Linked DNA regions of Homo sapiens. The protein of the gene in region 2 purifies or fractionates together with the protein of the main gene of each other region. This does not show direct contact. Each region holds a gene or a part of one and is shown on either strand. Other genes may lie near its edges. The genes, in order: EDEM1, OR1M1, ANKLE2, OSBPL5, NBAS and GUCY1B1.

Region 1 (3,887 bases), on a different chromosome or scaffold from region 2:
TATTGAGGAGGTGGGGATGGCATTAGGGAAGGGTTGTGCCCTGAGCTGGGTAGGCCCGTTGGTTGGTAAACCTTTGTTGTCTTTGAGGAGGCCAAAGAAGCCTTGCATGGACGCCTCACACTTGCCACTTACAAACAGTGGAAAACTTAATTTTTTGTACTCTCCTTCCTTTAACTCCTCTCAGGCTTTGCTTTTTTTTAAATATTTTTTAAAAAAATTTATTTTTAATTTTTGAGGATACACAGTAGGTGTATATATTTATAGGGTACATGAGATATTTTGGCACAGGCATGCAATTTGTAATAATCACATCATGGAAAATTGGGTATCCAACCCCTCAAGCATTTTTCTTTTGTGTTACAAACAATCCAATTATACTTTTAGTTATTTTAAAATGTACAGTTAAATTATTATTGACTGTAGTCCTCCTGTTATGCTATCGAATACTAGGCCTTGAGGAAAGTTTAAAACCAGAGTATTGTCATGCTGGCTTTGAAACAGGAGGGTACTTCACATCCCCAAACTAAATAATCTGTAATAAAAATTTTTCATATTTTTTGTTTGTTTGTTTAATTGACAGGGTATTGTTCTGTCACCCAGGCTGGAGTGCAGTGGCATAATCATTGCTCACTGCAGCCTTGAACTCCTGGGCTCAAGCAGTCCTCCTGCCTCAGCCTCCCGAATAGCTGGGACTAGAGGTGTGCCCCACCATGCTCGGCTAATTTTTTTTTTTTTTAATTTTTCTGTAGAAGTGGGGTCTTACTTTGTTGCCCAGGATGGTCTCAAACCCCTGGCCTCAAGCAGTCTTCCCGCCTTGGCCTCCCAAAGTGCTGAGATTATAGGTGTGAGCCACCAAGCCCAGCCAAAAATCTTTCAGATTTTAAAAAATCAAATGTATTCTAATGACTCATTTAACAAGAGTGAATTTGCCATTAGAGTATTATATAAAAAGTACACATAGAAAATTTCGGTGCTAAACACTCTTACCGTTTCTCTGTAGTCATATATGCTCCAAACTTATCTTGCCTCAAGTACATGTGACTTGTTCTTGGGGAGGTATCAGGTAAGGAGTTAACATGAAGTGAATAAAACCTGAACACTCTAAAAAGAGCAGATCTGTCTAAGATAACTATGCAAAGTCAGTTCTCACATCCTTAATTTGGGTTGGAGGATCCAAATTTAAAGTTTCTTTGAGTAAATGTGGATATTATATTTTTGTAATCCTGTGAATGGTTAACTGTAGTTCTGGCTTTTGGGCATGTGACCATTCTCAATTTCTTCTCAACTGTATTGCTATTAAAACAACAAAACAAATCTCAAATTAAGCCAAACAAATATTGGCCCCTCAAATGCTTAGGTACTACTAGCTCAAGATGGCCTCCTCTGCATTCCTCTTTCTTTGGAAAGTCCTGCCCTCTTTCAGAGTCAGGCTCCTCTTGTTTCCGTGACACCATCTAACTGTTTGAAGATGATTTTCCTTTATTTGCTCAGTTCTTCTTTTGATTCCTTTCCTTTGAGCTGCGATTCTACATTTTAACCTTATTTGAGGATTGAGTACTGTTGTGTATTCACCTGCATTTCCCTTTGTCTTGTCTCTCCAGATTATCAATCCCTTGAACGCAGGGACTGTTTCTTATGTTATCTCTGTGCCTACACCACACCAGGTAGATTTCTGAACAGCTGTTACAGGTTAAGTATACATGGGAATTTAAATTTAAAAACACATATGTTTGATTTTGTTAGCTACATAATCAAAAATTTTCTATCAAAGGCCATGGTTTTCTCCATCTTTTCTGTTTTGAGGTGAACTTTAAAAATTTACAGTGGGGTGAATGCCATGAACATTTGTACCTGGTGAAGTAAGTGGAGCGTTTAGTTGTGCGGTTCAGCCAGCTGGTTACAGGGAAAGGTATTGAGTTCTTGCTGGATGAACTTAAAGGTATCAGGTTAGGCTGGAGATTGACAAGAATATCTACAAAGAACAAATCCAGAGTCTGAGCTGCATAGTGGGCTGGCATAAATGGAGTCATAATAATTTCATGCTGTTAGGCCAGTAGAGTTTTATGGTGTTTTTTTTTCTTCCTTCATCCTCACTCCCACTTCCCCCTTATTTTGGCACCTTTTGAAAGAGGATGTAGCAATTATTTGGTAAGAAAGAATTAAAAGTGTTCTAATGAGTAAATACCCCAGATCTTAGAGAGGATTTGTCTGACTAGAGTGGAGAGAAGAAACCCCACAGTTACTGCAAGTAATTTTTTTTTTTTTTTTTACTGTGGCAGCTCATTAATTTTTAGTGACTGGGCATTGTAAAAAATATTTTAAAACTGGGTCTATTTTAGTTATAGATTACAAGGCAAAGCACAATAAAACATAGAAAGGAGTTCAGTGCTCACAGTGAGTACCTTCCTTCCATGGGCCTGTGCAGGTGGATAGAATGACACATGCCGCAGATCTGGGTGTGACTCAGGAGAGGGGAGTTACATGTGGTTCTCCTGATTACCATCTAGCTTGGATGCTACATGATGAGGGAGCTGTTTTCTGATGAGGTGGGCTGTTGAAGCCCACTCTGTTTCTAAGCGGCAGAGCAACAGAGTGAAATATTTACACAGAGCAGAACATTCTTGAGTTGGCAGAATTGGGCGTAAGGATCTCCCTGTCTCCTTTGAGCCCCTCCTGCAACCCTTGCACTTTTTGTACCTTTTTTGGCTGTCACTTGCGCTTGAGAGGCATATTTGAATCCATAGCTCTTGCTTTGAGGGGACCTTTTGCTATTGTATAAGTTTATTTCCAGAAAATCAACAAATAGAAAAAACAGGTACAATTTTCCAGCCAAGCAGTTTTCTGACTTCCCAGCTTATAGGAAATGAGCTAGCCCTAGTTCCTAGACTATAGCCCCCATATATATCTCGTTTCAAAAAAACAGTATCTAAAATTTTTTTTTTTTTTGAGACAGAGTTTCGCTCTTGTTGCCCAGGCTGGAGTGCAATGGCATGATCTCGGCTCACCGCAACCTCCGCCTCCTGAGTTCAAGTAATTCTTCTGCCTCAGCCTCCCTAGTAGCTGGGATTACAGGCGCCTGCCACCACGCCCAGCTAATTTTTGTATTTTTAGTAGAGACAGGGTCTTGCCATGTTGGCCAGGCTGGTCTTGAACTCCTGACCTTGGATGATCCACCCACCTCGGCCTCCCAAAGTGCTGGGATTACAGGCGTGAGCCACCGCACCCAGCCTAAAATTTTACTATAAATTCTTTGCTTTAGATTAGATGGTGTAACAGCATAAAACAAGGCAACTGGAGGGTTCAAATAAAATGAGACATTGGAGCTGTTATGCCTCTTTCACATAAGCCCCATTTTCCCCAGCTGAGGCACAGGCCTTTCAGAGACCACAGCAAGCCATCACAACACGAGAGGTGCTGTGCACCAGAAGCTTCTCTGACTGGAAGGTGAGATAAGGACCCATTAGGGTGATCCGAGGAGCAGATGAAGTGCTTTGGGATATGATGGAAGACTGCAGATATCAATGCATCTTGCTGGAAATAAAACTGGAGCTTTTTTGCTTTGGTTGCTAATAAAATCTTTAAACAGTTGTCTTATGTCTTCTCTTACTATCATTTTTTCCAAGCTTCTGCACTTATTTTCTGGATTTTTGGGAATGGGACAAATAAATAAATGAAGTCCCCAGAATTTCTCAAACTGTCCTTTATTTTACTAGTTCTTCATCCCTATTCTCCCAGATGTATTAGTTTTTTTGTTGTTGACTTTTTTGTAAAGTGTTACAAAGACATACCACAGTGCCTGAGGAGCTTCACCCTTGTCATCCTGAAGTTGGTTTCTTAAGGTTGTTTCAGAATGGAAAATTGGTGTAGATTATGGGGTGAGAGGTGTG
Region 2 (3,441 bases):
GTATGGAAAGGGGAGGTTATAGGAATGACAGGGAGATGGTTTTGGAAAGTTAGATGCGATCACATCCCAGTTCTCATTTGGGCTAATTATGAGACCAGATGTGTATATATATATATGTGTGTGTGTGTGTGTGTGTGTGTGTGTGTATATATAGAATATATATGTGTGTGTGTATATATATATATATAGAGAGAGAGAGAGAGAGAATATATGTAAATATATTCCACACATGTACGGTGTTGTAACTTTAGAGACCCTGTCTCTAAAATAGAAATATTATATATATTATTACATATTATGTATATATACATATATATATATTTTTGAGACAGAGTCTTGCTTTGTCACCCAGGTTGGAGTACAGTCGTGCAATCTCTGCTCACTGCAACCTCTGCCTCCTGGGTTCAAGTGATTCTCCTGCCTCAGCCTCATGAGTAGCTGGGACTACAGGTGCCCACCACCACGTCCGGCTAATTTTTTGTACTTTTAGTAGAAATGGGGTTTCACCATATTGGCCAGGCTGGTCTCGAACTCCTGACCTCGTGATCCGCCCACCTCGGCCTCCCAAAGTGCTGGGATTACAGGCGTGAGCCACCACGCCAGGCTAAAGATATTATTTTTTAGAGACAGGGTCTTGCTGTGTCACCCAGGAGGGAGTGCAGTGGTGCAATCATAGTTCATTGCAACCTTGAACTCCTGGGCTCAAGCCAGCCTCCTGCCACAGCCTCTCTAGTAGCGGGGTCTACAGGCACACACCATAAGTAAGCCTGGCTTATTTATCTTTTCTTGTGTGTGGTGGAGACAGGATCTTGCTATGTTGTCCAGGCTGGTCTTGAATTCCTGAGCTTGAGTGATCCTCCCATCTAGGCCTTCCAAAGTGCTACAATTGCAGGTGTGAGCTACCGCACTTGGCCTGACAACAGCTTATATATAGGTTGCACTTTAAACCATGGATGAAGTATTTATAGCAACTCTTCTTCTTTTTTGATTAATTAAAAAATGTTAGGGCCAGGCACGATGGGTCCCATCTGTAATCACAGCACTTTGGGAGGGCGAGGTGGGCAGAGAGCTTGAATGCAGGTGTTCAAGAGCAGCCTGAGCAACATGGCAAAACCCCTTCTCTACCAAAAAAAAAAAAAAAAAAAAAAAAAAAGCCAGGCATGATGGTGGACACCTATAGTTCCAAGTACTCGGGAGGCTGAGGTGGGAAGATTGCTTGACCCTTGGAGCAGAGGTTGCAGTGAGCCAAGATCACACCACGGTACTCCAGCCTGGTGACAGAGCAAGACTACATCTCAATAACAACAACAATAATAATAGGGTTATACAAAGCATTCTTTCCCTCTTTTCTTTCTTCCTGACATGGCAAACTCAACATATAAAAAAATAAAGTCTATTTTCTCCCGGAGCCACTATGTCCATGAATGGAATCACCATCCTTCCAGATACCTGTGTTTGAAATTTTCAGTCTTCCTCCTTTCTACCTCCACCGTCAAAGGCAATCCATCAATGAGTGTTACATCCTCTACAAGTCGAACTTCCTTCCTTTGTTTTTTTTTTTCCTTTTGAGACGGGGTCTTGCTCTGTTGCCTAGGCTGGAGTGCAGTGGCACGATCTTGGCTCACTGTAATCTCTGCTTCCCAGGCTCAAGCAATTCTCCTGCCTCACCCTCCCAAGTAGCTGGGATTACAGGAGCACGCCACCATGCCCAGCTCACTTTTGTATTTTTAGTAGAAATGGGGTTTAACCCAGCTGAGTATCTGGACACTAAAATAAAATAGCAACGTGCTCCTTAGTTCACATCCAACAGCTTTATTCTTAGCATGTGTGGCAATTCTTGATTAATTGGAATTAAAATAAACAATAGCACCTGTGGTGCAAATACTATTTAAAAAAAAAAAAAGAAATGGGGTTTAACCTTGTTGGCCAGGCTGGTCTCGAACGCCTGACATCAGGTGATCCGCCCACACTTGGCCTCCCAAAGTGCCGGGATTATGGGTGTAAACCATTGCTCCCAGCCTGAACTTTCCATTTTTTATTTTATCTATTTGTTTTTTTTGAGACAGAGTCTCGCTCTGTCACTCGGGCTGGAGTGCGGTGGCACGATCTCGGCTCACTGCAAGCTCCGCCTCCCAGGTTCACGCCATTCTCCTGCCTCAGACTCCCGAGTAGCTGGGACTACAGGCGCCCACCACCACGCCTGGCTAATTTTTTGTACTTTTTAGTAGAGACGGGGTTTCACCATGTTAGCCAGGATGGTCTTGATCTCCTGACCTCGTGATCTGCCCGCCTTGGCCTCTCAAAGTGCTGGGATTACAGGCATGAGCCACCGCGCCCGTCCTGAACTTTTTATTTTTATAGTCATTTCCAGTCATCTCCTCTTTCCAGACACCCTAAATGAAAGGCTCTTATTACTTCTGAGTTGCCAAGTTCACTAATCTTAAGCTAGCCTCATGCATCCAATTATCTTCCTTTGAAACAATCCTGAAGTCGGCCGGGCGCGGTGGCTCATGCCTGTCATCCTAGCACTTTGGGAGGCCGAGGCAGGCGGATCACCTGAGGTCGGGAGTTCAAGTCTAGCCTGACCAACATGGAGAAAACCCGTCTCTACTAAAAATACAAAATTAGCCGGGCATGGTGGCGCATGCCTGTAAACCCAGCTACTCAGGAGGCTGAGGCAGAGGTTGCAGTGAGCCCCGATTGCGCCACTGCACTCCTGCCTGGGCAGCAAGAGCGAAACTCCATCTCAAAAAAAAGAAACAATCCTGAAGTCACTAAATTAATCTTCCTGCATTACAGTTCTGATCATGTTACTTTTATATTTTTATTTTTTATTTTTGTGATTTCTAATGAACACCTTGCAGATGTCACTTTTATTCACTCACGCATTCGTTCATTCATTTTGTAAAAAATTATTGGTAATTGCAATATATAGTGACAGGATCTGGCCTGAGTTGTGGGGACAAATATATGAAAATACACAGACCCTGTCCTCAAGACATTTGAAATCAGGAATTGTTTGTCTTTGTTCATTTTTGTGACCAGCATCTTGTCTGGGATACAGAAGACATAAACATAATTGTTCCATATACGCATGAATCAGTGATGGTTATCCTGTATTGCCAGGCACTGATCGAAGGTCTCTGCTAATTTGCTACTCACGACAACAGAATAATGTTAGTGCTATTTCATGCAGGAAGAAATGGAAGCACAGAAGATTAATACAATCAAATGGGGTTTAACTGAGAGCAGGTGGCTGGATTAGCCCAAGCATTCTAAATCTAGAGCATGTACTCTTAATCTCTGTAATTCATGAAGCACGCATGGATTCATGAATTCACAGTTTAGTGAGGGAGATGAACTCCAGGCAGCATTTATCAGATTATGAGGAGCTTGGATTAATAGAGAATCACACCCCACACACAGCACCCCTGAGGATTG
Region 3 (3,887 bases), on a different chromosome or scaffold from region 2:
GAACGGGAAGCCTCCTGCCGAGATAAAGCCACCACGTCTGGTAAGCATGTGCAGGCGTGGCTGTGGCAGCTGGGAGGGGCCCCCCATGGCCGGGGTCTGACGGGATGCGCACATCTGTTTCTCGTCTCTTGGTGTTTTTAACGTAAAGGTCTGGTACTTTCCCTTAGGTTAGTATTTTTTGAGACGGAACCTCTCTTTGTTACCCAAGCTGGAGTGCAGTGGCGCAATCTTGGCTCACTGCAACCTCCACCTCCTGGGTTCAAGCGATTCTTCTGCCTCAGCCTCCTGAGTAGCTGGGACTACAGGCGCCCGCCACCACGCCTGGCTAATTTTCGTATTTTTTTTTTTTTTAGTGGAGATGCGGTTTCACCGTATTGACCAGGCTGGTCTCGAACTCCTGACCTCGTGATCCACTAGAGTGCTGGGAAGGTTAATGTTAAATGGGTTGTGTGTCGGGGAGGGTACATGAAAAATAATGGCATCGCTTTGAGCAGTATTGCTGTTTCTGCTTGTGTTTGCATTATCCAAAATCTAATATAGTTTCATTCTGTGCCGTTTTCTCAAAACTCATAATAGCTGAACTCCATTGGCTGAGCCTGATATTTTAGATTTGGTATATTTTCAGGAAAAAGACGAGTGCACATCAGAATACTGGTGTATATCAGACACCAGGGCACGAAGCGCCTTGCACGGTGCGTATCAGACACCAGGACGCAGAGCGCTTCACACAGTGCATATCAGACACCAGGACGCAGAGCGCTTCACACAGTGTATTTCAGACACCAGGACGCAGAGAGCTTCACACGGTGCATTTCAGACACCAGGATGCAGAGTGCTTCACACGGTGCATTTCAGACACCAGGATGCAGAGCGCTTCACACGGTGCATATCAGGCACCAGCACGCAGAGAGCTTCACACGGTGCATATCAGACACCAGGACGCGCAGTGCTTCACACGGGGTATATCAGACACCAGCACGCAGAGAGCTTCACACGGTGCATATCAGACACCAGGACGCAGAGAGCTTCACACGGTGCCTGTCAGACACCAGGACGCAGAGCGCTTCACACGGTGCATATCAGACACCAGGACGCAGAGAGCTTCACACGGTGCACGTCAGACACCAGGACGCAGAGAGCTTCACACGGTGCATATCAGACACCAGGACGCGCAGTGCTTCACACGGTGCATATCAGACACCAGGACGCAGAGAGCTTCACACGGTGCATATCAGACACCAGCACGCAGAGAGCTTCACACGGTGCATATCAGACACCAGGACGCGCAGTGCTTCACACGGTGCATATCAGACACCAGGACGCAGAGAGCTTCACACGGTGCGTATCAGACACCAGCATGCAGAGCGCTTCACGGTGCATATCAGACACCAGGACGCAGAGCGCTTCACACAGTGCATATCAGACACCAGGACGCAGAGCGCTTCACACAGTGTATTTCAGACACCAGGACGCAGAGAGCTTCACACGGTGCATATCAGACACCAGGATGCAGAGCGCTTCACACGGTGCATTTCAGACACCAGGATGCAGAGCGCTTCACACGGTGCATATCAGACACCAGCACGCAGAGGGCTTCACATGGTGCACGTCAGACACCAGGACGCAGAGAGCTTCACACGGTGCATATCAGACACCAGGACGCGCAGTGCTTCACATGGTGCATATCAGACACCAGGACGCAGAGAGCTTCACACGGTGCATATCAGACACCAGGACGCAGAGAGCTTCACACGGTGCGTATCAGACACCAGCACGCAGAGCGCTTCACGGTGCGTATCAGACACCAGGACGCAGAGAGCTTCACACGGTGCGTATCAGACGCCAGGACGCGCAGTGCTTCACACGGTGCATATCAGACACCAGCATGCAGAGAGCTTCACACGGTGCGTATCAGACACCAGCACTCAGAGAGCTTCACACGGTGCATGTCAGACACCAGCACGCAGAGAGCTTCACACGGTGCATATCAGACACCAGGACGCAGAGAGCTTCACACGGTGCGTATCAGACACCAGCACGCAGAGCGCTTCACAGTGCGTATCAGACACCAGGACGCAGAGAGCTTCACACGGTGCGTATCAGACACCAGGACGCAGAGAGCTTCACACGGTGCGTATCAGACACCAGGATGCAGAGCGCTTCACACGGTGCGTATCAGACACCAGGATGCAGAGCACTTCACACGGTGCGTATCAGACACCAGGACGCAGAGCGCTTCACACGGTGCGTATCAGACACCAGGATGCAGAGCGCTTCACACGGTGTATATCAGACACCAGGACGCAGAGCGCTTCACATGGTGTATATCAGACACCAGGACGCAAACGCAAAGCGCTTCACACGGTGCACATCAGACACCAGCATGCAGAGAGCTTCACACGGTGCATATCAGACACCAGGACGCAGAGCGCTTCACACGGTGCATATGAGACACCAGGACGCAGAGCGCTTCACACGGTGTATATCAGACACCAGGACGCACACGCAAAGCACTTCACACGGTGCATATCAGACACCACGATGCAAAGTGCTTCCAAAGCACAGATGCACTGAATGGAAAGAGCATGATGGAAGAGGTTAATCTACAAAATCTAAAAGTGATTCATAAAAACATCAACGATGGCCGGGCACGGGAGCTCAGGCCTGCAATCCCAGCGGCCGGGCGTGGCGGCTCACACTATAATCCCAGCACTTAGGGAGGCCAACGTGGGTGGATTGCTGAAACCCAGGAGTTCGAAGGCAGCTTGAGCAACATAGTGAGACTCTGTCTCTATTTATTTTTTTAAAAAAACAGAAATTTGCTAATAACTAGAGATTCGAATCTGCTAAAATACAAATTAAAGCAGATATACAGTTTAAACTGTGTGTGTGTGTGTGTGAGTGTGTGTCTGTGTGAGTTTGTGTGTGTAAGGTCATAATAGAACCATTAGCCCGCAAGACACTTCATTTATAAAACAAACTCCCTGGAATGATAGAAAATGAAAATGATTGACATACATTAAACTAAGAAGCAGTGAATCTTCAACAGTCACGACCTGTGACTCTGAACCACAGAACTAGAGCGACGTCAGTGCCGTCGTTATACAGGAATCATTGAAGTCTGACCTTGCTGTGTTGTAGCTGATGGTGGCACAGAACTCACTTCTGTAAAGCGGCCTCATTTACAGTGTTGTCTTGTGACTATGTACATTTTAATTAGTAAATATTAAATAAAGTTGAGGCATTTCCTAAGTAGCAGGAGCCACAGCTCAAGTGTTCTGGATCCTCCTGTGGCCGCGGCCACCATCGTGAACACCAAACGGGACATTTCTGTTGCCTGTCGCACAGTGCTGCGCCCGGGAGCTCTTCTGTGTTATCTTCACACCTAAAGCGCAGCAGGGTTACTTCATGGAGTTGTTCTGGACGATCTTCGGGATCCTCTGGGGCACTGTGACACTCGGAGCCCCTGGGGTCGCAGCAGATCGGAGCTGGAGGGTGGCTGGGGGTGCAGGGCAGTCATCTCGCCCATCACCTGGGCTGCCCTTGGCGTTTTCATGTCCCTGCCTTTGAAAGAAAAGTCAGCCTGGCAGCTTTATTTCCCTCCTCGTCTGAAATAGGGTCTCACTCTGTGGCACAGGATGGAAAGCAATGGTGCAGTCACAGCCCACTGCAGCCTCCCCCTCCTGGGCTCAAGCGATCCTCCCACTTGAGCCTCCCAAATAGCTGAGACTACAGGTGCGTGCCACCATGTCAGCTAATTTTTCTATAGAGAACGGGGTTTCGCTATGTTGCCCAGGCAGTCTTGAACTCCTGGGGTCCAGCGACCCCCCTGCCATGGCCTCCCAGAGTGCTGGGATTGCAGGCGTGAGCTTCTGTGCCTGGCCCCA
Region 4 (3,887 bases), on a different chromosome or scaffold from region 2:
CTGAGCCTCAGTTTCCCCATCTGCACAATAAAGAAGTGGAACCACGGTCGTGGTTTTCAAACTTGCTTCCCATGGAACCCCAGGGCTCTGTGGTGGGGTCAGGGGAGCTGCGGGCCCTCTTGCTCACTACAACGAGAGCAGCCCTGCTGTCACTGGAGTCCTGGGTTTGGGGTTCTAAAAGGGGTTTCCATGGCTAAAAATTTATGAAAACCACAGATCCCAAAGGTACCTTGAGGTTTAAGGTTTAAAGCTCCTTTCTTTTGGCACCATCTGTAATACGGCCTGAGGCTGTTTTCTTGGGGGGTGGGGAAGGGGTCCAGCTTGGGGCCTTGAGGGATGAGACCACCCTTGGGGACCCGGCCTGAGCCATCCAGGGCCCCAACTGTGGGAAGTGGGGCCCTGTCCCCCATCACCAAGGACCTGGGCCCTCTGTGGGGGTGACCAGGATCCTTCTAAGCCATGTGGGGTAGGGGGTGGCCCGGGGACTCAGGGAAGTGCCAAGGGACGAGGGCTGAGCAGACAGACTCCTGGGCCGGAGCCCCACCCTCCCTGGCTGGCAGGGGCTCACCTTGGGCTTCTTGTAGAAGCCAGACAGGTACCACCGCAGCACCAGCTTCATGCGGCTGTAGGCATCCTCCTCCACCGCAGCCCTGCCATGGGGCAGGAGAACGCTGACCCCAGCTCCGGGGGCCGTGGGCCACCCTCCCTTTCCCTGACCCTTCCCTCCTACCATCCCGACCTCCAACCACTCAGCTGGAAACAGGCCACTTGGCCCAGGCGCTCTGGTCACCCCCAAGCAGGATAATTTTCTCTGGGGAAGTGGGTTCTTCTAATCAGAAAGTGCCAGGGCTGCTCCCACGCTGGGGCAGAGAGGACACTGCTGACCTGGGCTGCCAGGGTGCCCCTGTCTCCAGGAAGCCTCCCTGCCCATGCTCTTGTTCCCACCTGCTCCCTCTGCCTGGCTCCTGAGCCTGCAGCCCCCTTCCTGCCTCTGTTGCCCCCTTCCAGTCTCTGCAGCCCCCTTCCAGCCTGCGTACCCCCTTCCAGGCTCTGCTGCCCCTTCCTGCCTCTGCAACCCTCTTCCAGCTCTGCAGCCCCCTTCCAGCCTCTGCAGTCCCTTCCTGCCTCTGCAGCCCTCTTCCTGCCTGCGCAGCCCCCTTCCAGCCTCTGCAGCCCCTTTCCAGTCTGCGCAGCCCCCTTCCTGCCTCTGTAGCCCCATTCCTGCCTCTGCAGCCCCCTTCCTGCCTCTGCAGCCCATCCCATCCAGCTCGAGGGTGCAGGGCTCAGGGTGCATGGCAAGTGCTTGGGACTGACCCCCCTCTCACCACGGATGGCTGGCTCCTCCCAGGCCCATCTTGGAGACAGGGCCCCCTGGGAGGCTACAGCTGCAGAAACAGTGGGCTGAGATCAGCCATGGGATTCTCTGGAAGCCCCCACAGGGCAGGTAGGGGCTGGGGGTGCTGCAGGGTCTCATGCAGATGCAGGACGAGGTGTGGGGTGCCCCTCCCGGCATGGCGCGCACCTGGAGAGCAGGTCTGCGTGGTAGTAGTAGTCGGAGAGCTTGTTCAGGAAGGAGCGCGGCTCCAGTACGAACGTGGGTAGCACCACGCGGGACAGGTCCATGCCTGGCCGTAGCTGCTTCAGCAGGGTCCACATCAGACTCTTGTTCTCCTCTGACACTGTCTCCACCTGGGACGCCTCGCCCAGCTGCAGCAGACAGGCTGCAGTCAGGCCCTGCCCGGAAGAGCCGGGAGGAAGGGGTGGCGGGACAGTGGCAGCTCTGGCTGGAGGAGGCTGTACCTGCCACCCCTTAGGGTGTAAACCCCTGACCTGGCCTCCATGGCCTCATGAGGCTGACTCAGCCCCATCAGATGTGAACTCTTCCCAATGCGTCTCCACCCCACCCCTGGAGCACCCGCAGCCCAGGTCCAGGCCCGCTCCTGTCTCTGCTCCTTGCCCAGGGACCCCATGCCCTGCCCTCCTCAAAGTCCAGGGTGCAGCCTCCCAACACCTGCTGTTGAAACCTGTCTGTGCATCGTGGGACCCTGGGCCCAGGGAACAGAGAGACTGCAGCCCACCCTGTCTTCACAGCTGCCAGGGGAGGCAGGGATTTGGCCTGCTCTTCCATTTTTTAAAAAAGGTTATTGTAACATTTCTTTTTCTGTTTTTGAACCACTTTATTGAGGTCTGATTGATATACAGAAGCCTTCAGATATTGAATGTGGACAACTGGGTGAGTTTGGAGGTGAGCCTGCTCCTGCAAAACCGACACGGGCATGTGAACTCACCCCTCACTTCCGAAGCCTGTGTGCCCCTCACGAAGGCCCCCTCATCTCTTCCTTTTCTGAGACATCTAACCCTCACCACAGCTCCAGAATACATGACTTGGGGTGGCGGGGCTCCCCTTACTCACTCCAGACTTGCACCTCACCGCAGCCCCAGGGAACGGGGACCCTGGTCCTCCCCCTCCACAGAGGGGACAAGTGACTTGTCCAAGGTCACACGGCTGCTATGCGGCAGAGGTCAGATCTGAACTCAGGGCTCTCTGCATTTTTAGCCCAACGGCAGCTGCCCCAGGGAGCGGGCAAGATGGAGTGTGGCCTGTGAGTCCTGCATCAGGATCTCATCCCCGCTGCTGGGACTCCTCAGGCAAATGGCTTCGCCTCTCTGTGCACGCATGGCCACGGACAGATCCTGGTGGCACTGGCCCAGTGGACAGTGTGTGTGGACACCCAGGAGCCATGTCTGACCCCATGAGGGGTCATGGGGAGCCCAGTGCTGTAGCTTTGGGGCTTGGAAATCATGGGTAGCTTCGGCTGTCAGGAATCCTGCTCTGTCCATGTGCTCCCGTCCCGTCCTCCTTAACCCTCTCCACCAGGCTTCTGCCGTCTTCTCTACTGAGACTGTCTTGCCGTAGGTCCCCACCACTCCTCACTGGTCCAGCAGCCATCCCTGCTTCTCATCCTGCCCCACCTCTCGGACCAGCTGGCTCTGAGACACCTGGGCTCCTGGATCCTCCCACCTCCCTGCCCCACCTCTGTGAAGCCTTATCTGTGCTCGGCCTCTGAAGGTTGGGTGCCCGGGCCCCTTGGCTGCCCGCTCCATGCCCTCTGCCCGGAGCCCCAGGCTCGCACCTGCAGCAGCCCGCTCTGCCTGGCTCACAGCAGCGTCGCTCATCACCATCTGGCTGAGATCTACCCAATCCAACTTCCGAAATACCCTGAGTCTGCCCACTTCTCCCTTCTCCATCACAGCTGGGTCCAGGGTGTCCTCAGCTTTCTCCTAACAATGGGTCTTCCCTACGGGTGGCCCAGTGTCCACCCCCGCCCCTCGGCTGTCCCGAGGCCCTTGCCTAACCCGCCGGTGGCTTCCCCAATACTCTCAGCCTGAGGCCCCCAGGGCCCTCGGTCCACTCCCCATAGGCCCATCCTAACCTTCCCATCCCCGCACAGGAGCCTGAGCTCTGTGGGAACAGCAGCCCGCAGGGAGGCCATGGTGTTCCACTGAACACAAGGATTTCACGGACCACGGAGGAGCCCCCTCTGTCCCTGTGCAGAGCAAGATGCGAACACGACGCTGTCCAAACAACAGCAAGGAACGAATTCCCCTTTCCTGCTGAAACCGGGACTGCCCCTTGCCCTCAGTGACAGCCACGGCCTTGCTCTTGTCTCGCCTCCCGGGTGAGAATGACAAGATCCCAGATCACAGAGCCCCCCGTTCCTGACAGCCCCCACCCCAGAGCGCAGCCCCCACCCCAGAGCCCGGCTTCCTCAGCCTGCACCCGTCACCCAGCGGAAGCTTAGATCCTGTGATTCCTTCCGGACTCCCCTTCCTGAGGCGCCCCACGGTGCCCAGGGCCACGTGAGTTCTCTCCAGCTGCGGGGAGT
Region 5 (3,887 bases), on a different chromosome or scaffold from region 2:
TGTGAAGGGGTACAGGACAGGCATAAATGTGGCTTTTGCTCATAGGGAGCTTATGATTTTTTTTGTTTTGTTTTGAGATGGAGTTTTGCTTTTTTTTGCCCAGGCTGGATTGCAATGGTGCGATCTCGGCTCACTGCAGCTTCTGCCTCCCTGGTTCAAGTGATTCTCCCGCCTCAGCCTCCCAAGTAGCTTGGGACTACAGGCACACAACACCACACCTGGCTAATTTTTGTATTTTTAGTAGAGACGGGGGTTCACCATATTAAAAATAACTGGCCGTATAAGTAGATTTCAGATACAACTCTAGAAACCCAGTGAAGATAGTGATTATTATAGATCTGGTAGAGATGGAAGATTTTATATAGTGAAGATGTTTGGAGCAGGGATTTGGAAGGATTTAAATTAGGCCTTCTTGAATGAGAAGGGAGGAAGACATTCTTAACAGGACAGATGGTATGAACAAATTAAAAGACACTGAGCATGATTTATGAGGCCAGTGACTAAATCTGTTTTATTCACTGCTATATTTCCATGTCTAGTTCAGTGGCTGGTGTGCAGTAGGTGCCCAGTAAACATTTTATGGATAAATGAGCTCTGTACATCAACCAGTTTGCTGGCACTGATATTTGACAATAGTGAACACTGGGAAACATGATTGAAAAGATATATTGATTTGAGTTCAGGAGGATGTGGAAAGCTTCTGATGACTTAGGCATTTATCTACTGTTGTGGATTTCTGACTGTGGAAGCAGAGGAAGATGGTGTAGAGAGAATTGGAGTGGAAGGAAGGTAGGAAACCTTGCTTGGGGCAGGGGACTCCTACAGTGTGCTAGATGTTTTGTGTTGATGATTTAGACTGGTATGGAGGCCGCAGCTGTGGAAAAGGGAAAGTGAATTAAGAGACATTTGAAGAAAGAACTGATGTGAGGCAATATATAAAGGATCCTAGGGAATGAGTCAAATCTTAATTAAAATTTATAACCATAATAGCTCTTTCTAGGAAGAGGGCAAGTCAGGGATTTTTTTTTTATTTTTTATTTTTTAATTATTATTTTACTTTAAGTTCTAGGGTACATGTGCACAACGTGCAGGTTTGTTACATATGTATACATGTGCCATGGTGGTGTGCTGCACCCATTAACTCGTCATTTACATTAGGCATATCTCCTAATGCTATCCCTCCCCCCTCCCCCCACCCCCCAGCAGGCCCCGGTGTGTGATGTTCCCCACCCTGTGTCCATGTGTTCTCATTGTTCAATTCCCACCTATGAGTGAGAACATGCGGTGTTTGGTTTTCTGTCCTTGTGATAGTTTGCTCAGAATGATGGTTTCCAGCTTCATCTATGTCCCTATACAGGATGTGAACTCATCCTTTTTTATGGCTGCATAGTATTCCATGGTGTATATATGCCACATTTTCTTAATCCAGTCTATCATTGATGGACATTTGGGTTGGTTCCAAGTCTTTGCTATTGTGAGTAGTGTCGCTATAAACATACGTGTGCATATGTCTTTATAGTAGGAAGATTTGTAATCCTTTGGGTATATGCCCAGTAGTGGGATTGCTGGGTCAAATGGTATTTCTAGTTCTAGATCCTTGAGGAATCGCCACACTGTCTTCCACAATAACAAAGACACAACATACCAGAATCTCTGGGACACATTTAAAGCAGTGTGTAGAGGGAAATTTATAGCACTAAGTGCCCACAAGAGAAAGCAGGAGAGATCTAAAATTGACACCCTAACATCACAATTTACAGAACTAGAGAAATAAGAGCAAACACATTCAAAAGCTAGCAGAAGGCAAGAAATAACTAAGATCAGAGCAGAACTGAAGGAGATAGAGGCACAAAAAAACCTTCAAAAAATCAATGAATCCAGGAGCTGGTTTTTTGAAAAGATCAACAAAATTGATAGACCACTAGCAAGACTAATAAAGTCAGAGATTTTGAATGGAGTTGGAGGAAATAGTTGGGAGGGAGGAATAGGACTTTGATCTTTCCAAAAAACAGCATATCATGACTTTTTATGATCAAGTTATTCACACCCTGGGATATATCTCATGGTCAAATAAATACAGAAATTTGATGGGCTCATTTGTTTTGTTTAAAAGTTAAACATGCTTATTAATTATGACAGAATATATCTTGCCTTTCTGCCTTATTGTCTGCTCTATTATACAGCCACGGTGCAAACCAAAGGCATTTATAAAAGTTAGGAGGAAACATTTTATATTTCCAAAAATGAGTCCTGAGCTTTCTGTTTCTGCGTAGCTCATTAGAGGAAGAAAGCAAGCAGGTCAACTCACACTCCCCGCATCCAGTTGTAGTCACCATTAGGCAACTGGCTGCTTTTCTCTTGAGTTCCTCTAGCAGCTCCCTATGGCCAAGGTCCTAAATAGCTGTAATACATCAGGTATAGCTTTACAATTCTGAAGGCAGTTGTAATGTGTTGTAAGATGTCATGGATTCTGTAATTCCTCTGTTTCTTCCTTTATATGCAGAGTAAAATAAAGAAGCGATCCTGGGTTCTCCATGAGTGTTTGGAAAGAGTTCCTGAAAATGTGGATGCTGCAAAAGAACTGCTTCAGTATGGATTAAAAGGCACAGACCTGGAGGCTCTTTTAGCAATAGGGAAAGGAGCAGATGATGGCAGGTTGGTTACAGAAAGAATTGGATTCAAAGTAAAGGTGACTTTGTGAAAACTTTTGTACTGAGACATTGGACTGGGTAAACTTTTCTTTATTTAAGTTATTCTGTACTGAAGCAGTTGCTTTTGATCAATACTGTCTTACCTGAAGTCATTGCTCATCAGGCATTTGGAACTTTTTAAAAAATATAAATATGAGAGTATATCTGAGAAGTAAATAATTAAAATGAGACTGACACTACCATTTGAAGACCTTAAGTAGAAGTGATTCAAATAGCAAACTCTGTGGACATTTTCAGCATAGGCTGCTTTACATTGAGTGAATGTAACCCCACATCTCTTCCTAAATAGTTTTCATTTTCTTGATTTTTAGATTTCTATTTGTAATAATTACTGATGACTTTTTGCCCATCTGTGGATATAATGAATGATCACTTTGTTTACAATGGCAAAAGTTTTTTTCAAATACTTTCTTCTGTTTTTGTGGAAATCAATAATGAAATCAGTCAAAATAGGAGAAAGCTTTTCACAACACGAAGTTTTTAAAAATGATGAAAATATATTTGTTCTTTTATACTTGCAGATTTACATTACCTGGTGAAATAGACATTGACAGTATCTCCTATGAAGAGCTTTCACCACCTGATGAAGAGCCTGCCAAGAATAAAAAGGAAAAGGAGCTCAAGAAGAGACAAGAACTACTGAAATTAGTGAACTTTTCCAAGTAAATGAGTTGTTACTGTTCATTTGATAGTTTCTTTAAAATAACTAATCATTTCAGTGTGTTCCTTACTAGTAATAATTAGTCCAAATTATTTTAGCAACTTAGATCAAATGTACTTACTATTATCTTACCCTTGTGCTTTTCTGAACTGTTTCATGAGTTTTGGGCTCAACGGAATATTAATCATTTTCATTATAACTCCTAGAGAAATAATTCTGTGTAAATATAAGTGGCCTAACATAGTTATTCAAAACAGGTTGACACTGGAACAAAAGGAACTTTGCCGTTGTAGACGGAAGTTATTAACCTACTTAGATCGACTTGCAACATATGAGGTAATGAATAATTTTTGTCAAACCAATTATGTTCATTTGATCTGTCATTATAAATGCTATGGCTGCCCTAATATCGGATATTCTTGGTCTTTAGAACTATTTTTCTGGGAAAAATTAATTTCTTATAGAAGCAAGTTCTCTTATATACTAGTTTTGGTAAAAATTAGAGATTGTGAAAG
Region 6 (4,678 bases), on a different chromosome or scaffold from region 2:
AGCTAAACTTTCCTAACAGGGAAATTTCCAACAAGAGGATATTGAGCTGAGTCTTAGCAAGAAATGAATTTGCAGCAGAGTATGGGTAGAGGGTATTCAGACAGAGCAGAGCATAGAATTACAAAGGTAGCAACTAGCAGATAAGGCTGGTTAAGGTGACAATGTTTACATGCTTTGCTAAGGTGTACAGACAATGAGTAGCATTTAAGTGATTGTACGCAGGAGAGCAATTTGGATTTGTAAAAGACCACTCTGGCAGCAATTTGAGAGTGTGGAATGGAGGTGGCAAAGGTAGGAAATAGACAGATTTATAGGGAAGATCTTGCAATTGTTCAAGTTACACATGATGAGTGCCTGGACTTCGAAGAGTGTTGGCGGAATAAAGTAGAGATTTAAAAACATGCAAGATGTAAAAATTGGAATATGAGGTATTCAAAGGCAGAGATGTTTTGTTCAATGACATTTCTCAAATATCTTGAGCAGTACCTACCCAAAGTAGATGCTAAATAAATATATGCAGGATTCTGGGAAGATGACAGTGTCAATGTAGTTTCTGAGTATTCCTAACTCTCCCCCCAAAATAAGCATAACAACTATCCCCACTTCACCTCTTTTCTTTCAAGTTACTCTTTCTCTAAGTATTATTTCTGCATTTGAATATATTTCTTCATTATGAATATCGCATATTTTCATTACTTGTATACATGTCTATCATCCCTAAATGATTCAGAGCTCTTTAAATAAGCTGATGACATTCAATATTTAACTGTTTCCCCTTTCCATGCCCAGTCTTTATTTCCTGTCACTCTGTTGGTATTAAAAAGAAATATAGCATTTAAGAATATGCTGTCTATGAGGAGTCAGTGAAAATTTATAATGGTAGCAAATAGGCAAAATTGTAAAATGTATTTACAAAATAATGGCATTAATAAAATGAAAAATAATGTTAATATTTTTATTGAAATAAAAACTGTATAGAGACACGTGAAAAAAATAATTTATTACAGACTCTTTTACACATTAACATGGAACATTTATACATATATCGATGTGCTGATATGAAATACTAAATTTAAAGGCAAACATTTTTACACAAAAGTAGTTGCACTCTATTTTATAAAGATAGATATTAATAAGTTATCAGAGACATTTAAGAGCTAGAGGCCAATTATTCCAACAGTAATGCATTCTATGCTGAAAGTAAACTAAGTTTTCTGAACATGATGTCCTGGATATAATCACATTCTTCTAAGCTAAGGAAAGGGAGCTCATTTCTGGGAATACAAGGCCAAGAAGGGCTCTAACAGCAGTATCCCAGCAGTGTGTTTCCAGATTTATTCTTGGATGTGGTTGGAGCTCCCAACATTTAGCCTGAACTAATGTAACAGCTCAATGTGAAACAATGCAGCTTTCTGTAACAGCTGCCTGTGGTTAATGAGATTTAATACAGGGGATACAGTTACAAATGATAGCATTTTAGAAGAATTATAATTGCCATATGATTTGAATTAGTAATCAAATACTTTAATAACAGAAACGTGTATTCTATATTTCTGAAAGGGAAGTAGCATACTTCAAAATAGTCACTATTTTCTTAGCATGATATGTTAATTCTTACTTTGGGAGTCTGAAAATAAATTGCATTTTTTCCCCTAAAACTTAGAATTCACTCCTTTAGAAAATGATTTCTATAATGATATACACCAACATGATATAAACTTTATTACATTATAGTCATTAAAATATACATATACATATATGTGGAACACTAAACAGATTTGGTAAACATGATATAAATATACACATGGCCAAACACTGTTCAGTTTCATTTAACTAAATTCAACAAATATTTATTGGGTGCCTACTACTTGCAGATCACCATGTTAGGTAATGCTTGTAGTAGATTTTAAGACACATGAAGCTCACATCATCCACATCAAAAGCCAAACTTTAGATAATATACTAAAGCCTAAAAAGTAATAGAAAGCAGAGCTAAGGTTGAATAACGGATAGTGAGAGATATATCTAGAAGAAAGTCTTGGGGTAATGGACAAGGACAAAAGAAAATCTGTATCCATAGGGAAGAACTGCTCCTGGGCTTGGCACGTGTTAGGAGAAAACTGGAACCTAGTCTGTACTCCTCTTCACCCCATAATCCAAGATTCAGTCATCATCCTGCTTTGTTTCCTTAAATAGGCAGAAGAAAAGAGGGATTGATTTACAGTGATAGTGAGGTTTATAATATCAATTAAATATATTTTTCTCTTTATGAGAGTGTGATCCACGTTCACATCTACAGTTTCTGTAAATCATTCCCACCATAATTCTGGGAAAAACAGGACCGCACGACTAAGATGACCAATGTTTGAGGTAATTACGGCTTAGTTTATCAGAAGAACATCAATAAGCATGTCCACCTCATAGGAAAATGATTTAATGTTAAACCAGGTGAAAGAAGATAAATATTTCAAACCCTGGCATTCTATTCCCTTTAGAAGTTGTTATGCCCTAAAAGCATCTTTAGAGAGTTTATACACACTAAAAGAGAAATATGAGCATGCAGTCTTATCCCCCATGAGGAAACAACACATCAACAGGGTAACAAAGTATCAAACTTGCTTCTGATGCCACTCCTTACAAAAGGCTAGGAAGAGGCTAGCCATGATCTTAGTGTGTGCAAGGCCTCTATGAGAGGTGTGATTCCACTTTGGATGTGCCACTGTTCTGAAGTCCATTCTAGCACATGGGCTCTGCCTGGAGTATAACCATAGTAGTAGAAAGAACTTAAATCTTCCCTAAGGAATTAATCAGATTCTAGCAAGTTAAAAATCACTCATCTATCTAGGAGAAACACATGAGGGACTAGGATTTCCAAAATTCCCCAATCACTCCATAGAAAGATAGCCTGCCCCTTAAAAGGATCTTAAGCTTCATGGTTAAGAAACCTCCCATGAACCACAGCCCTTATCTGTGGTGATCTCAGAGCCAACTTAGAGAGCTGAGGAAAGGGGTCAGGGGAGCCCCTCACAGCCCACTTACCTTTGAGCCAGACTACAGAGGAAGAGCAAAACAACCACAACAGCAAGAAAAAAAGCAGCCTTCTCAATCCAGTCTGTTGGTTTTCATTTCATTAGAGGACAAAAATCACTAAAGTATCCCCTAAAAAGTACTTATGATTGTAATTGGCTCATTAATGTTCAATTATTTCCACTGCTTTACTTAGAAGTTAATTTCTGTTAGCAAGAATTCTTTTCAAATGAAATACATTTTCAGTGATTTTGCTTTAGTTTTCCATACTTATACTCTGTCTTAAGTACGCAAATTACACTTTGATTAGTCATACCTCTGTTCCTGTATTTTTTCTGGATAGAAACCAAACTTGCATTGGTTCTTTTTTGCCCTTCATGGACACTGGGCCTCTGTGCTCCAAGTGGAATTGTGGATCTGAATTTTCTGGAGACATAAGACATCTAAAAGACAAGGGAAGGGGAGTAGAGAGAGAAGTATACACAAGTTTTATAGAGAAGGTGACATGTATCATGTTATAAACCAAGATGGCAAGAACAAATGCTGAAGTTGTACTGAAAGGTAACTCAAAGCTTTAGAAACAATGATCATATCAGGATTTCCTAAGATGATGTGAAATCATATAAAATGGAAATAATGACACAATCTTCTCAAATAAAAAGTAAACAACTCTACAAGCAGTGGGGAAGAGTGAAGGTGATAACTCTGTTAAAGCAACAAAATCTCTCAGAGAATTAAACCACATGCAAAGACACATTTTCTTTGCAAATCAGTAAATACCAAGACATTTTCTCTCACCTGTATGTATATTCAGACACATTTATTTTTCCCTTTTCTCCTGTGGTTTCTGTTCGGCTTGTGAGGTTGACAGTATTCCCAAAAAGACAGTATCGAGGCATCCGCTGTCCTATGACACCTGTAACTACCTCTCCAGTGTGTATCCCTATTGTTATCTGCAAAAAAGAAAGCTTTGCTTCAATCATTTTGATCACTAACACATGAATTTTTTTTTTTTTATTTTACTTTAAGTTCTGGCATACAGGTGCAGAAGGTGCAGGTTTGTTACATAGGTATATATGTGCCATGGTGGTTTGCTGCACCTATCAACCCATTATCTAGGTTTTAAGCCCCGCACGTATTAGGTATTTGTCCTAATGCTCTCCCTCCCCTTGCCCCCAAACTCCCAACAGGTCCCGGTGTGTGATGTTCCCCTCCTTGTGTCCATGTGTTCTCATTGTTCAGCTCCAACTTATGAGTGAGAACATGTGGTGTTTGGTTTTCTGTTCCTGTAACACATGAATTTTTGCTTACTTTATATTACAGAATAATGTAGAGTCATCATATAACATCGTAAGAGATGTCTATAAGAATTTCAAGCATATTATGGACAACTTCAAAAGCCCTCCATGAAATCTCTATCTCCCCAGGGAAATATCCTATCTCAAGAGAAACATTTGAAGTCTGAAGATTTCAAAGATGTGAATCTAGTAACTTACATGAGACATGAAAGAGGTTTTAAAAAATAAACTAGAAGGTACAAGAGGTTTTTTTCTCATCCCCATGACTTTCAGTACATGAAACGGACTAGATAATTTCAAACAGGTAGATAAATCTCCATGTCTATGAAAGAATGTAGTACAGTGGGCTGGAT

What was found.
Region 1: the proteins of OR1M1 (region 2) and EDEM1 purify together in Homo sapiens (affinity purification with mass spectrometry; one large-scale study listed by BioGRID and IntAct). This does not show direct contact.
Region 3: the proteins of OR1M1 (region 2) and ANKLE2 purify together in Homo sapiens (affinity purification with mass spectrometry; one large-scale study listed by BioGRID and IntAct). This does not show direct contact.
Region 4: the proteins of OR1M1 (region 2) and OSBPL5 purify together in Homo sapiens (affinity purification with mass spectrometry; one large-scale study listed by BioGRID and IntAct). This does not show direct contact.
Region 5: the proteins of OR1M1 (region 2) and NBAS purify together in Homo sapiens (affinity purification with mass spectrometry; one large-scale study listed by BioGRID and IntAct). This does not show direct contact.
Region 6: the proteins of OR1M1 (region 2) and GUCY1B1 purify together in Homo sapiens (affinity purification with mass spectrometry; one large-scale study listed by BioGRID and IntAct). This does not show direct contact.

The regions. Positions count from the first base shown.
Region 1 is NC_000003.12:5,190,669-5,194,555, forward strand, and holds part of EDEM1 (ER degradation-enhancing alpha-mannosidase-like protein 1), read left to right. Parts: exon of another isoform or gene 1-1,635; coding exon of another isoform or gene 1,636-1,664; exon of another isoform or gene 1,665-1,689; intron 1,690-2,270; exon of another isoform or gene 2,271-3,887. UniProt on the Homo sapiens protein: Extracts misfolded glycoproteins, but not glycoproteins undergoing productive folding, from the calnexin cycle.
Region 2 is NC_000019.10:9,089,785-9,093,225, reverse strand, and holds part of OR1M1 (olfactory receptor 1M1), read right to left. Parts: intron 1-3,441. UniProt on the Homo sapiens protein: Odorant receptor.
Region 3 is NC_000012.12:132,730,538-132,734,424, reverse strand, and holds part of ANKLE2 (ankyrin repeat and LEM domain-containing protein 2), read left to right. Parts: coding exon 1-40; intron 41-353; coding exon of another isoform or gene 354-409; exon of another isoform or gene 410-566; intron 567-3,887. UniProt on the Homo sapiens protein: Involved in mitotic nuclear envelope reassembly by promoting dephosphorylation of BAF/BANF1 during mitotic exit.
Region 4 is NC_000011.10:3,102,671-3,106,557, forward strand, and holds part of OSBPL5 (oxysterol-binding protein-related protein 5), read right to left. Parts: intron 1,708-3,887; coding exon 1,523-1,707; intron 651-1,522; coding exon 569-650; intron 1-568. UniProt on the Homo sapiens protein: Lipid transporter involved in lipid countertransport between the endoplasmic reticulum and the plasma membrane: specifically exchanges phosphatidylserine with phosphatidylinositol 4-phosphate (PI4P), delivering phosphatidylserine to the plasma membrane in exchange for PI4P, which is degraded by the SAC1/SACM1L phosphatase in the endoplasmic reticulum.
Region 5 is NC_000002.12:15,467,150-15,471,036, reverse strand, and holds part of NBAS (NBAS subunit of NRZ tethering complex), read left to right. Parts: intron 1-2,503; coding exon 2,504-2,655; intron 2,656-3,232; coding exon 3,233-3,373; intron 3,374-3,629; coding exon 3,630-3,708; intron 3,709-3,887. UniProt on the Homo sapiens protein: Involved in Golgi-to-endoplasmic reticulum (ER) retrograde transport; the function is proposed to depend on its association in the NRZ complex which is believed to play a role in SNARE assembly at the ER. Required for normal embryonic development.
Region 6 is NC_000004.12:155,803,895-155,808,572, reverse strand, and holds the end of GUCY1B1 (guanylate cyclase soluble subunit beta-1), read right to left. Parts: intron 3,981-4,678; coding exon 3,826-3,980; intron 3,471-3,825; coding exon 3,344-3,470; intron 2,188-3,343; coding exon 2,164-2,187; 3' UTR 762-2,163; downstream 1-761. UniProt on the Homo sapiens protein: Mediates responses to nitric oxide (NO) by catalyzing the biosynthesis of the signaling molecule cGMP.